3 linked regions of the Homo sapiens genome follow. The protein of the gene in region 3 purifies or fractionates together with the protein of the main gene of each other region. This does not show direct contact. Each region holds a gene or a part of one and is shown on either strand. Other genes may lie near its edges.

Region 1 (3,653 bases), on a different chromosome or scaffold from region 3:
AATTTGCTGTAAGTAGTTTTTGAGTGGTGTGACTAGAACCTACTGAGAATTAAATTTAAAAACACATAAAAATTGTTAAGCCCAGCATCAAGTGCTTGGATGTCGTTAGAATACTCCATAGAGTACACATTATACACTTGCCAGAATTTTTGAAAATGGTAGAGAAAACCTTGCTTATTGTTTGCATTTTTTAAAATGTATTTTGTAAATCTTCTCCCCAGCACCCAGGCTGAACTCTGTACCATTTGGAAGAATGGAAGCTGATGCATCTGTTGACATGTTTTCCAAAGTCCTGGAGCATCAGCTGCTTCAGACTACCAAACTGGTGGAAGAACATTTGGATTCTGAAATTCAAAAACTGGATCAGATGGATGAGGATGAATTGGAACGCCTTAAAGAAAAGAGACTCCAGGCACTAAGGAAAGCTCAACAGCAGAAACAAGTAACCTCTCTGCCCTGCTTTCTGAAATTGCTATAACAGTATGCGCCTAACAACTTATATATACATGTGCTGTAGTAGTTACATTTCGTTCTTTGTGTTTAGGGTTTTTAAAATTCAGAATACCTATTACTGTTAAAAATTTGCCCAGAAAAAAATATGTTTTAAAGACATTCAAAATTAGCCCAATCTCTATATTAATCCACAGTCGAGTAAAAGAAAGATCTGCCCAAGATCGTTTTTCTGAGCTTGGATTTGTTTGGTTGAATGGAGGGCTAGGGAGTCATTGGTTTCCATTTCAGGTAATATTAAAGCCGATTTAGCTATTTTCAAAGCAAACGAGATAAGACAGATGAGATAAGAGCAATTAAGTCAATTTATGTTGAAAAATGTATTTCAGGCATTTCCAATGAAATAATTATGTGGCATATTCAAAAGAATGCATGCTTTGTAACAAAGGTGGCCACAGCTCTATCGTTGTTGCCTCTTAGAATGTTTGTGTAGAATAAACGCAGAGTTGTAAACTCTGACTGAAACCAGTGGATTAAATTCTGTAAATTGAAATTTTTTTTTCTGCTTTTTGAGATGGAGTCTCGCTGTGACACCCTGGCTGGAGTACAGTGGTGTCATCTCAACTCACTGCAACCTCCGCTTCCCGGCTTCAAGCAATTATTCTGCCTCAGCCACCCGAGTAGCTGGGACTACAGGCGCACACCACCATGCCTGGCTAAGTTTTGTATTTTTAGTAGAGATGGGGTTTCGCCATGTTGGCTAGGCTGCCCTTGAACTTCTGACCTCAAGTGATCCGCCCACCTTAGCCTGCCAAAGTGATGGGATTACAAGCGTGAGCTACCGCACCTGGCCAAATTGAATTTTGATTAAAACATTTTTTCCACTGGGTTACATGGAAATACTTTATCACCAACTCTGGTTCCTTTTCAGTTGACTGTGACTTAAACATGAGGCTTAACTTTTCTGAAGAAATAGGGAGTTTTGACCGGGCATGGTGGTTCACATCTGTAATCCCAACACTTTGGGAGTCCAAGGTGAGCGGACAACCTGAGGTCGGGAGTTCAATACCAGCCTGGCCAACATGGTGAAACCCTGTCTCTACAAAAAATACAAAAATTAGCCAGGTGTGGTGGCGCACACCTGTAGTCCCAGCTACTCAGGAGGCTGAGGCAGGAGAATCTCTTGAACCCGGGAGGTGGAGGTTGCCGTGAGTCGAGATTGTGCTACTGCACTCCAGCCTGGATGATAGAGCAAGACCCAGTTCCCCCACAAAAAAAGAGAAGGAGTTTTGTTTGTATTGCTGTAGCATCACTTTGATATGTTTACACCCTCATGTTTAGAAGAGTTACTACAAAAGGAAATAATCTTTTATAAGTGAGTCCAAATTTTTATATTTTGAGTTTCTAAAATAGAGTACGTTATATGGCTTTTACCTGTACCCTACCGTATTTTAAAAAATAGGCTGCTTTTCTTTTTCTTTTCTTTCTTTTTTTTTTTTTTTTTGAGAGGGAGTCTCACTCTGTTGCCCATCCTGCCTTGACCTCTCAAGTAGCTGGGATTACAGGTGCCTGCCACCATGCCCAGCTGATTTTTGTACTTTAGTAGAGATGGGGTTTCATCATGTTGGTCAGGCTGGTCTCAAATTCCGACCTCAAATGATCCGCCTGCCTCAGCCTCCCAAAGTGCTGGGATTACAGGTGTGAGCCACCCCACACCAGGCCCAATTGGCTTCTTTTCATAGTATAGGGCTGATAATTAGTATGCAAAGGACGGATTATTGGAATTTAAGGTAATATATGTTTAGGTTCTGCCACAAACTCATATTTCATAGTCACATTTAAGTACTAATTGCTAATGTGCAACTAAAAATAATTATTTGTAACTAGGATATTTTTGTAGAGAGACTGAATTCACCTGATTTGCAGTGATGAACATACGTTAAATAATGTCTTAAAGGAACTTTTTGGCAGTTCAAAACAGTGGTCTGAATATAATTAAAACCAACTAAGGCAGACTGGCTATAAGCCTTTTTTATTATTAATGTATAAATCAATTTAAAATGAATTTGTCATCGAGTAATTCAGAGGGTCTTATTTTAGAACTTTCACTGCATTTTAGTAGGTCTTTTATTAAAATATTTTCTGGAAATAGTCAAGAAACCTAGTGATTTGTATAGATATTCTTTTTATAAGAGATTATACAGTAATTAGATTATGCAGTAATTTTGATTTTCTGATCCACGAGGGTATTGGGGAGATCATTGTATGCATTGACTTACAGTCGGCACTTAATAGACCTAGGTGAATCTATATTCTTCTGTCAGCCAAGCACCCTCCTACTGTTAACTAGAGCTGGCACACTTAGGTAGGGAGCAGAATAGAGGGATAAGGTAAGAAATAGGAGTTAAGCAGAGGCTTGGGTGACAGCCACTGACAGCCAGGTGCTGCCCAGCTGCCATGCCTCAGGTAGGCCCATCCTGCTTGATTCTGTTCTGCAGATACCTTAGGAGCACATGCTGTCCAAAAGGGGCTATGCTAAGAGCACAGGGGTGTAGTGAATGTGTCAGGAGAGGCCCTGAGCATTGGTAGAGGTTTGGAATGGGCACATCCTCCCTCAAAGGAGCCCAGGACAGGTTCGGGTCTTCAGCCTCTTGGTTAAATACCTGAGAATAAATAATGAAAAGAAATAGCAGCTTTTTTTTTTTTTTTTTTTTTTTTTTTTTGAGATAAGAGTCTTGCTCTGTTGCCCCGGCTGGAGTGCAGTGGCACAATCTCGGCTCACTGCAACCTCCACCTCCCAGGATCAAGCAATTCTTCTGCCTCAGCCTCCCAAGTAGCTGGGATTACAGACGCCTGCCACCATGCCCGGCTAATTTTTGTATTTTTAGTAGAGGTGGGGTTTCGCCATGTTGGCCAGGCTGGTCTTGAACTCCTGACCTCAGGTGATCCGCCCACCTCAGCCTCCCAAAGTGCTAGTATTACAGGCGTGAGCCACTGCGCCCGGCCTAGAAATAGCAGCTTTTTAAAAGACAAATACTTTTTTTTTTGAGACAGGGTCTTGCTCTGTCACCCAGGCTGGAGTGCAGTGGTGTGATCTTGGCTCACTGCAACCTCCGCCTTCGGAGTTCAAGCAATTATTGTGCCTCAGCCCCCGAGGAGCTGGGATTACAGGTGTGTGCCAACACACCTGGCTAATTTTCATA
Region 2 (3,653 bases), on a different chromosome or scaffold from region 3:
ATGCTTCATATGTTAGAAATTGATAAAGATAGCTAACAGTTATGTGGAAATTCCCTATTCTGTTCTCTCTATATATGTTCACAGTTTTCTATAATACAAAGTTTTAAAAGAGTAAATCCAAAATCAACATGGTACTCCATAATCTGGTCCCTTTTGCCTCACCTCCTCTCCCTGTGCTCCAGGCACACTGTAACAACCTAGTCACACTTCTGCCTCAGGACCCTTTCAGAGGTCATTCCTTCTGCTTAGAACCCTCTTATTCCAGATGTGCACATGGCTAGCTCCCTTGTTTCTTCAGAGACCTCTTAGCTCTCCAGGTTCTTATCAGAGTAGTCTTCCCTGTCCACTATAAAATCACACACATGATTTTTTTTCTATTTCAATTAGAAACATAAACTTCTTGGGGAAAGAAATTCTGTTCTGTTTACTCTCATTCCCATTACCTAGAGCAGTGACTTAATATATGGTGAATGAATATATTTATGTTGAATAAAAGTAAGTAATGAATTTAATAAAAGAATATCTTTAAAAAATTCTAGAACCCATATGTTGTCAAAGCTTATGTAATTTACTTTGTATCTGTTCCTAATTTATGCTTCATCTCCATTATTTCTACCATGAAGAGATCAATAGGGTAACCTGGTCTTCTAACAGCCAAAACAGAATCCACCACAACCTGAAAGAGAAATGAATGAGAACAGTTAAGTTATTTGGACTACTAAAATAAACCAAGGGCCCAAACAATCTATCACCAGACTAAGGAGATAAAAGCCTTCAGGATTCAAAACCTAGGGCAAGACCAATATGTGCCACTTTACTATGGATGCTAACAATAGCCAATGCCAACAGACACTTTAGAGTCTAAAGAAACTTCAGAGATCATTAGGTCCAAACCTTTTATTTTACAGATAAGGCAACTGAGATAAGACCTTAAGAAGTCACAGTTTTTAAATAAGATCTAACAGCTAGTAACAGGGCCGGGACTAGAATTCAGGGCTCCCTAACTGCCCAGCGACTACTCTTTCTATCATACCAAGACTATCCAAACTTTTCCACCAAAGGACACCTTAATGGAAAAGAAGGAAAGGTAATCTAAGGTAATAGCTCCAATTTGCTGGCTGTAATAACAGGAAACGTTAAAGTCTCATGTTTTATCGTGAAAAGTTTCCATGTCATCCCATAATATGTTTATCTCAATGTAAAAATAATGTTTTCCCCCAAAATTGTAAAGTAAAATTGACACTCCAGAAAGCTACGTCTCATTTATTCTGTCACATATGACCAGGGATATACAATTTAAGAAGCATAGCACAACACGTCTTATTGCTTAGCTCAGAAAATGATATAAAAATAATAAATAACTGCAGAAATTAAGGGCTAAGTTATAACTACCCTAAAATATACATAAAGCAGAAAAAACTGTATCTTAGAAAACTTTGCCTGAGGTGACATAATATTTTATTTTAGAGGCAAATAAGAAATAGGACAAAGGCCATTGGATAGTGAGAATATCACTGTTTCTGTAACTCTAAAACAGAATGGGTGCCCTAGCAGCATGAAGATTTGGGGCCATTCAAGTACTCTAACAGCAGAAAACACAGCAGAGCCTTTCTTCTGACTCTGCTCATCAAGAAATTGTCTGATCTTAATCTGATTTCCCAAGTTGTTTTTTTTTAACGGTAAGGAGAATCGATCAGAAACAACTCAAGTATTCCAGTACATTTGGCATTTGTAGTTCTCAAAGTAAATTATTAAGGTAGTATTCTGCTTTGTATGTCAATGTCTTGTGAATTTGTTTCCTAAGAATTTATCATTCTTCCTGGTAAACAAATATATTCAAGTTTCAGAAATTACAAAGCTGAAAAACAATAATGATATCAAATCATTGCCACCTGATAAAAGCCTTCCCAAAATATCCAGCCAATCTTGTCTTTATATAAAATATATATATATATATATATATATTTTTTTGAGACAAAGTTTCACTCTGTCACCCAGGCTAGAGTGCAATGGCATGATGTCAGCTCACTGCAACCTCCCCCTCCCTCCCAGAGTGATTCTCCTGCCTTAGCCTCCCAAGTAGCTGGGATTACAGGTGCCTGCTAACATGCCCAGCTAATTTTTGTATTTTGAGTACAGACAGGATTTCACCATGTTGGCCAGGCTGGTCTCAAACTCCTGACCTCAGGTCGTCTCCCCACCTCGGCCTCCTAAAGTGCTGGGATTACAAGCATGAGCCACCATGCCCAGCCTATATAACATATATTCTACCTTTAGAAATAAACAAAACACTGGCCAGATGTGGTGACTTCATGCCTGTAATCCCAGCACTTTGGAAGCCCGAGGTGGGTGTATCATTTGAGGTCAGGAGTTCAAGACAAGCTTTGGTAACATAGTGAGACCCCATCTCTACTAAAAATACAGAAATTAGCCAGGCGTGGTGGCACGCGCCTGTAATCCCAGCTACTCGGGAGGCTGATGTAGGAGAATCGTTTGAACCTGGGAGACGGGGGTTGCAGTGAGCTGAGATCATGACACTGCACTCCAGCCTGAGTGACAGAGTAAGACTCTGTCTCAAATAAATTAATAAAAGAAATAAACTAAACAAACATACATTTCCAATATGTGAATATTAATATATTAATATATCATATCACATTTCATTATATTGGTAACCTTATCTACAAGGTACACTGCTAAAACAACTATCTTGTGTGTCACCTCACATAATAAAATATGGACTGCTAGATTTAAAAAGACCAGTATACTATTCAAGAGCTTCCACAGGAGATGATCTGCAGGCAGCCAAACCTCTCCCACCTTTCAAGTCACGTTTAAAAAAAGGCCTAGTATGATACTTCTGAAAATTACAAATACTGTTCTGACCAGTCAAATCTAATCTACAGTTAGGCCTATACAATAATTGTCTGTCTTCCATATTTTATGCCCAAAAAACCACATGAAATACTTGATTATCTTACAGAAAAAGAAAAATATCACCATGCATTAGGCTATATTTGTTCTGAATGCAAAAGTTTAATAACATACCTCTGTTAAGACATCAGCCAGTTCAGCATGAACTTTAGTTTGTAATGATGTTCTAGCTACATCTAAGAGGATTTTTCTTTTCATCTCCTTTGTCACTTTAACTTCCTCCAAAACTTCAAGTGCTTTTATCTTTGCAGCTTCAAATCCTTCAGCTATTATTCTAGGGTGCAGGCCCTGTTACATCAACATAAAATTATAAATTATAAAATAAGTCACCCAATGTAAAAGTAACCAACCTGTCTGATTATTATGTTCAAAAAAAGTTACTCACATTAATGCCATGAAATATAAGTGTACATAATTTATAAAAGTCATTTTAGTGCTTCATACTTGAAATAATCTCAACCTTAACAGTAAGGCTTCAAGTCTAGTATTAAAAATTACAGAAGTCCTTTTTATTTCCAAAAATTATGACTACATTGTTGTTATGTGGTGCCCTTCTGAATGGGCACACATAAAAAGATTCCTTTCAATGCAGAGGAAAAGAACCACCACTGAATTGGGGAAAAGTGGCAGATAGAACACTGTGGTGTCTACCACTTCACCAAGTGATCAAAGTTAACATCACAATAATGAGACAGACAGGCATCACATGCCTGCTGACA
Region 3 (3,653 bases):
GCAGCCGCAGGCACTGAGCTCGCTGCCTGTCCTGGGTCCACGTCGCTGGGTGCTACTGACCACCTCCCAGCTGTCCACGTTTTTGCTTCCCCAGAGAGCCAAGGGCCCTCACGTGCAGGGGCCCATATCTCTGACCCCTCAGCCCCACCAGAAGCCTATGTATGGTGAGACTCAGCCCAAGCCCCCAGCCAGGCTGACCTGTTCACGATGGACGTGTGTCCTCGGTACACCTGCAGACACTGCCCGGTCAGCACGTCCCACCTCCTGATGGTGCAGTCGGCGCTGCATGTGAAGGCAGCCTCATCCTCCAGCTGGCAGAAGGTCACATAGCTTTCATGTCCTGCAGATGAGGGACAGGGGAGATGTGAGCGTACTGGGGATGCCAGCTCCTGCTTTTCTTCTGGGAACAATGTTTGAAAAGGGAAGAAAGCAGGATGTAGGGAGTGTTTGAGACAAGCTGGAGTCAATTAGCATTAGTTTTGTTTTGTTTTGTTTTTTTGAGACAGAGTCTCACTCTGTCACAAGGCTGGAGTACAGTGGCGCGATCTGGGCTCACTGCAACCTCTGCCTCCCGGGTTCAAGTGATTCTCCTGCCTCAGCCTCCTGAGTAGCTGAGATTACAGGCGCATACCACTATACCTGGCTAATTCTTTGTATTTTTAGTAGAGATGGGGTTTCGCCATGTTAGTCAGGCTGGTCTCGAACTCCTGACCTCAAGTGATCTGCCTGCCTTGGCCTCCCAAAGTGCTGGAATTACAGGCGTGAGCCACTGCGCCCAGCCCTCAACTCATCCTTCTTAAAGAATGACTTCAGTCTGAGTGATTCTCAGAAAGCACGGGGTACCAGTGAGGCACGACAGATAGTCAGGGAAGTAACCATGTCCTCAGGACGCAGCAACCATGGCGACTGCGCCGTCAACACAATAAGCCCCAGCATTCGCACTGCAGGCAAGCTCATTCAAGCAAAGCTATCTTCAGTAGGGACTTTCCCCTGTAGAGAGCACGTGCACTTTGATTTTTACCGGTCCTCACAGTGACCCTTTGCTCATTACAATAGTAAAAAACACACCCCTGGATGGAGATTTAAGATGCCAGTGAGACATGTGACGTATGAACAGGGATGCACAGCCACTGTGCATGAGCACCCAGAACATGCTTCCCAGCAACCCCCTTGCCCACCTGCTCATGAATAATCAGGTAAGACTCCTAAAAAGGGATCCTCCCTCCAGCCGGTCTTTGCTCTCTCATCCTCACAGGCAGCCTACCCTGACTCCCCTCTTGGGGCGTCCTGCCTATTCTGCACCTAACTTTCAGGGTATTCTTCCTCCTGTGCAATACATTGCTCTATGCTGCATCTCCTTTGCTGTGTGTCTCCTGTTTCAATTCTGTTAAACTAAGAAGACAAGAACTGAGGTTTCACAGCAGCCATCAACAGCAGGAGCAATCCAGGGGCACTCGCCTGCACCCTAAACCCTCTGTTTCCTCAGCTTCCACTCTTGCCTTCCTCCCTCCTCTCCTTCCCTCCTCATTTCTTTATCATCTCCTTTTAGTCTTTTTCAAACCTTTCAGCTTTTGCATTCCACATTTCCTCACCTGGGATGGGGACAATGCCTGCCTCACGGGATGTAGCGCAGACTGAGGACAGAGGCAGCCGCAGAGGGAATGGCACATGTTCGCTATTTTCCTTACACTGGGGAGAGATACTGTGGTAGGCAGAATGACGGCCCCAAGACAGCAGGTCCTAATCCCTGGAACCTGTCAATGTGACCTTACTTGGAAAGGGGTCTTTGTGGATGTGACGAGGTAAAGACTTTGACTGGGGAGATTATCCTAGATTATCCGGGGGGTCCTAAATACAACCGCAAGTGGCCAGGCGCGGTGGCTCACGCCTGTAATTCCAGCACTTTGGGAGGCCGAGGCGGGTGGATCACAAGGTCAGGAGTTCAAGATCAGCCTGGCTAAGATGGTGAAACCCCGTCTCTACTAAAAATACAAAAAATTAGCCGGGCGTGGTGGTGGGCGCCTGTAATCCCAGCTACTCGGGAGGCTGAGGCAGAGAACTGCTTGAACCCGGAAGGCGGAGGCTGCAGTGAGCTGAGGTTGCACCACTGCACTCCAGCCTGGGTGACAGAGCAAAACTCTGCCTCAAAAAAAAAAAAAAAAAAAAAAAATATATATATATATATATATATCTCCACAAATGTCCTTACAAGAGAGAGGCCAGGGAGATGTGATATACTCGGAAGAGGAGGCCGTGAAGGTGAAGGCAGAGATGGATGTGGCCACGAGCGCAGGAATGCCAGCAGCCACTAGGGCTGGAAGAGGCCAGGAACCGACCGTTCCCTGCAGGGTTTAGATGTGGCCCTGCTGACACCCTGCTTTCATCCCAGGGACGCTCATTTCAGCCCTCTGGGTTCCAGCACTGTGAAGAATCAACTTCACTTGTTTCCAGGCACCAAGCATCCTCCTTTGTCACAGCAGCCCCAGGACACTAACATAGACACAGAGACAATGAAACACAGCCTTGCCCTCCAAGGGAGCTCCAGGCCCAGAAGGGAAGACAGTCAAGGGCAGCATGTGGTCAGCAGGGCTCGGCACCCCACTGGCAGCGGCTGGCTGGGGCTCGGGAGAGAAGCCTGAGCACTGGAGACCAGGAAGAGGGTGACTCGGTGCCCGTAGGGAGAACAGCGGCTAGGAAAGCAGGCGTGCAGGGACTGGCTCCATGGGGCACCTCCAGGCCAGAGTCTGAGTGATCGGTAGAGATGACTGATGAGGCCGGGATGTGGCCAGAATGGAGGGCCAAGAGTGGAGGGCCATGCCAGGGTGTCTGGGGTCTCAGCACCTGAGCTACCCCACCAGCTGGTTGGGACTCTATCTCATGGGTGCAGTTAGATAGCTTGACTATCACCCTGGCTGCCAGATCAATGTTTATGCCTCAGGCATTGCTTAGCAGCCCTGGGGGCCCTCAGGGTCTCTGATCTTAGTAGGGCCTGCCCTTCAGGTAAAGATGGTGTGTATACAGTTGTCCCCCAATATATACAGTTGCCCCCAATACCCATCAGGGATTAGTTCCAGGATCCCCTGCAGATACCAAACTCCACAACGCTCAGGTCCCTGTGGTGTAGTATTTGCCCATAACCTATGCAATCCTCCTGCATACTTCAGTTCATCTCTAGGTTACTTATGACACCCACTGCGATGGCTACACATCGCTTCACTTGTGTGGATTCAGTGTAGGACTTGGTGAGCAGGGAAGCCAAATTTTGCTTTTTGGAGCCTTGTGGAATTTTTTTTCCTGGATGTTTTTCATCTGTGGTTAGACGAACCCACAGGTGCAGAACGTGTTGGGCAGGAAGGCCCACTGGATTTGAGGAACTCGGGGACCAGGAAGTCAAATCAAAAGACTGTTAGAACTAAGAGCCATTTTACAGATGAGACAATGGACAAATTCAAACATCCACACATTTGGGGGACATACTTATTACATTAAGAATTTTGATAGAATTTTAAAATTTCATTTAGACAGCTGGTATTGGGTAGACAGGGATTTAGAATTTCCTGGGTAGTTTCAAGCCAATTCACATCCACCCCTTCCCCCGACCCCCTGAGTTTAAGTTCAGTTACTCTTGGAAAAACGCAACTTCCTGAGTTCTA

Evidence for each region.
Region 1: the proteins of WDR86 (region 3) and TXNDC9 purify together in Homo sapiens (affinity purification with mass spectrometry; 2 studies listed by BioGRID and IntAct, with this or other methods). This does not show direct contact.
Region 2: the proteins of WDR86 (region 3) and CCT6B purify together in Homo sapiens (affinity purification with mass spectrometry; 2 studies listed by BioGRID and IntAct, with this or other methods). This does not show direct contact.

The regions. Positions count from the first base shown.
Region 1 is NC_000002.12:99,329,811-99,333,463, reverse strand, and holds part of TXNDC9 (thioredoxin domain-containing protein 9), read left to right. Parts: intron 1-221; 5' UTR 222-253; coding exon 254-442; intron 443-3,653. UniProt on the Homo sapiens protein: Significantly diminishes the chaperonin TCP1 complex ATPase activity, thus negatively impacts protein folding, including that of actin or tubulin.
Region 2 is NC_000017.11:34,951,378-34,955,030, forward strand, and holds part of CCT6B (T-complex protein 1 subunit zeta-2), read right to left. Parts: intron 3,223-3,653; coding exon 3,049-3,222; intron 677-3,048; coding exon 573-676; intron 1-572. UniProt on the Homo sapiens protein: Component of the chaperonin-containing T-complex (TRiC), a molecular chaperone complex that assists the folding of proteins upon ATP hydrolysis.
Region 3 is NC_000007.14:151,399,902-151,403,554, forward strand, and holds part of WDR86 (WD repeat-containing protein 86), read right to left. Parts: intron 341-3,653; coding exon 199-340; intron 1-198.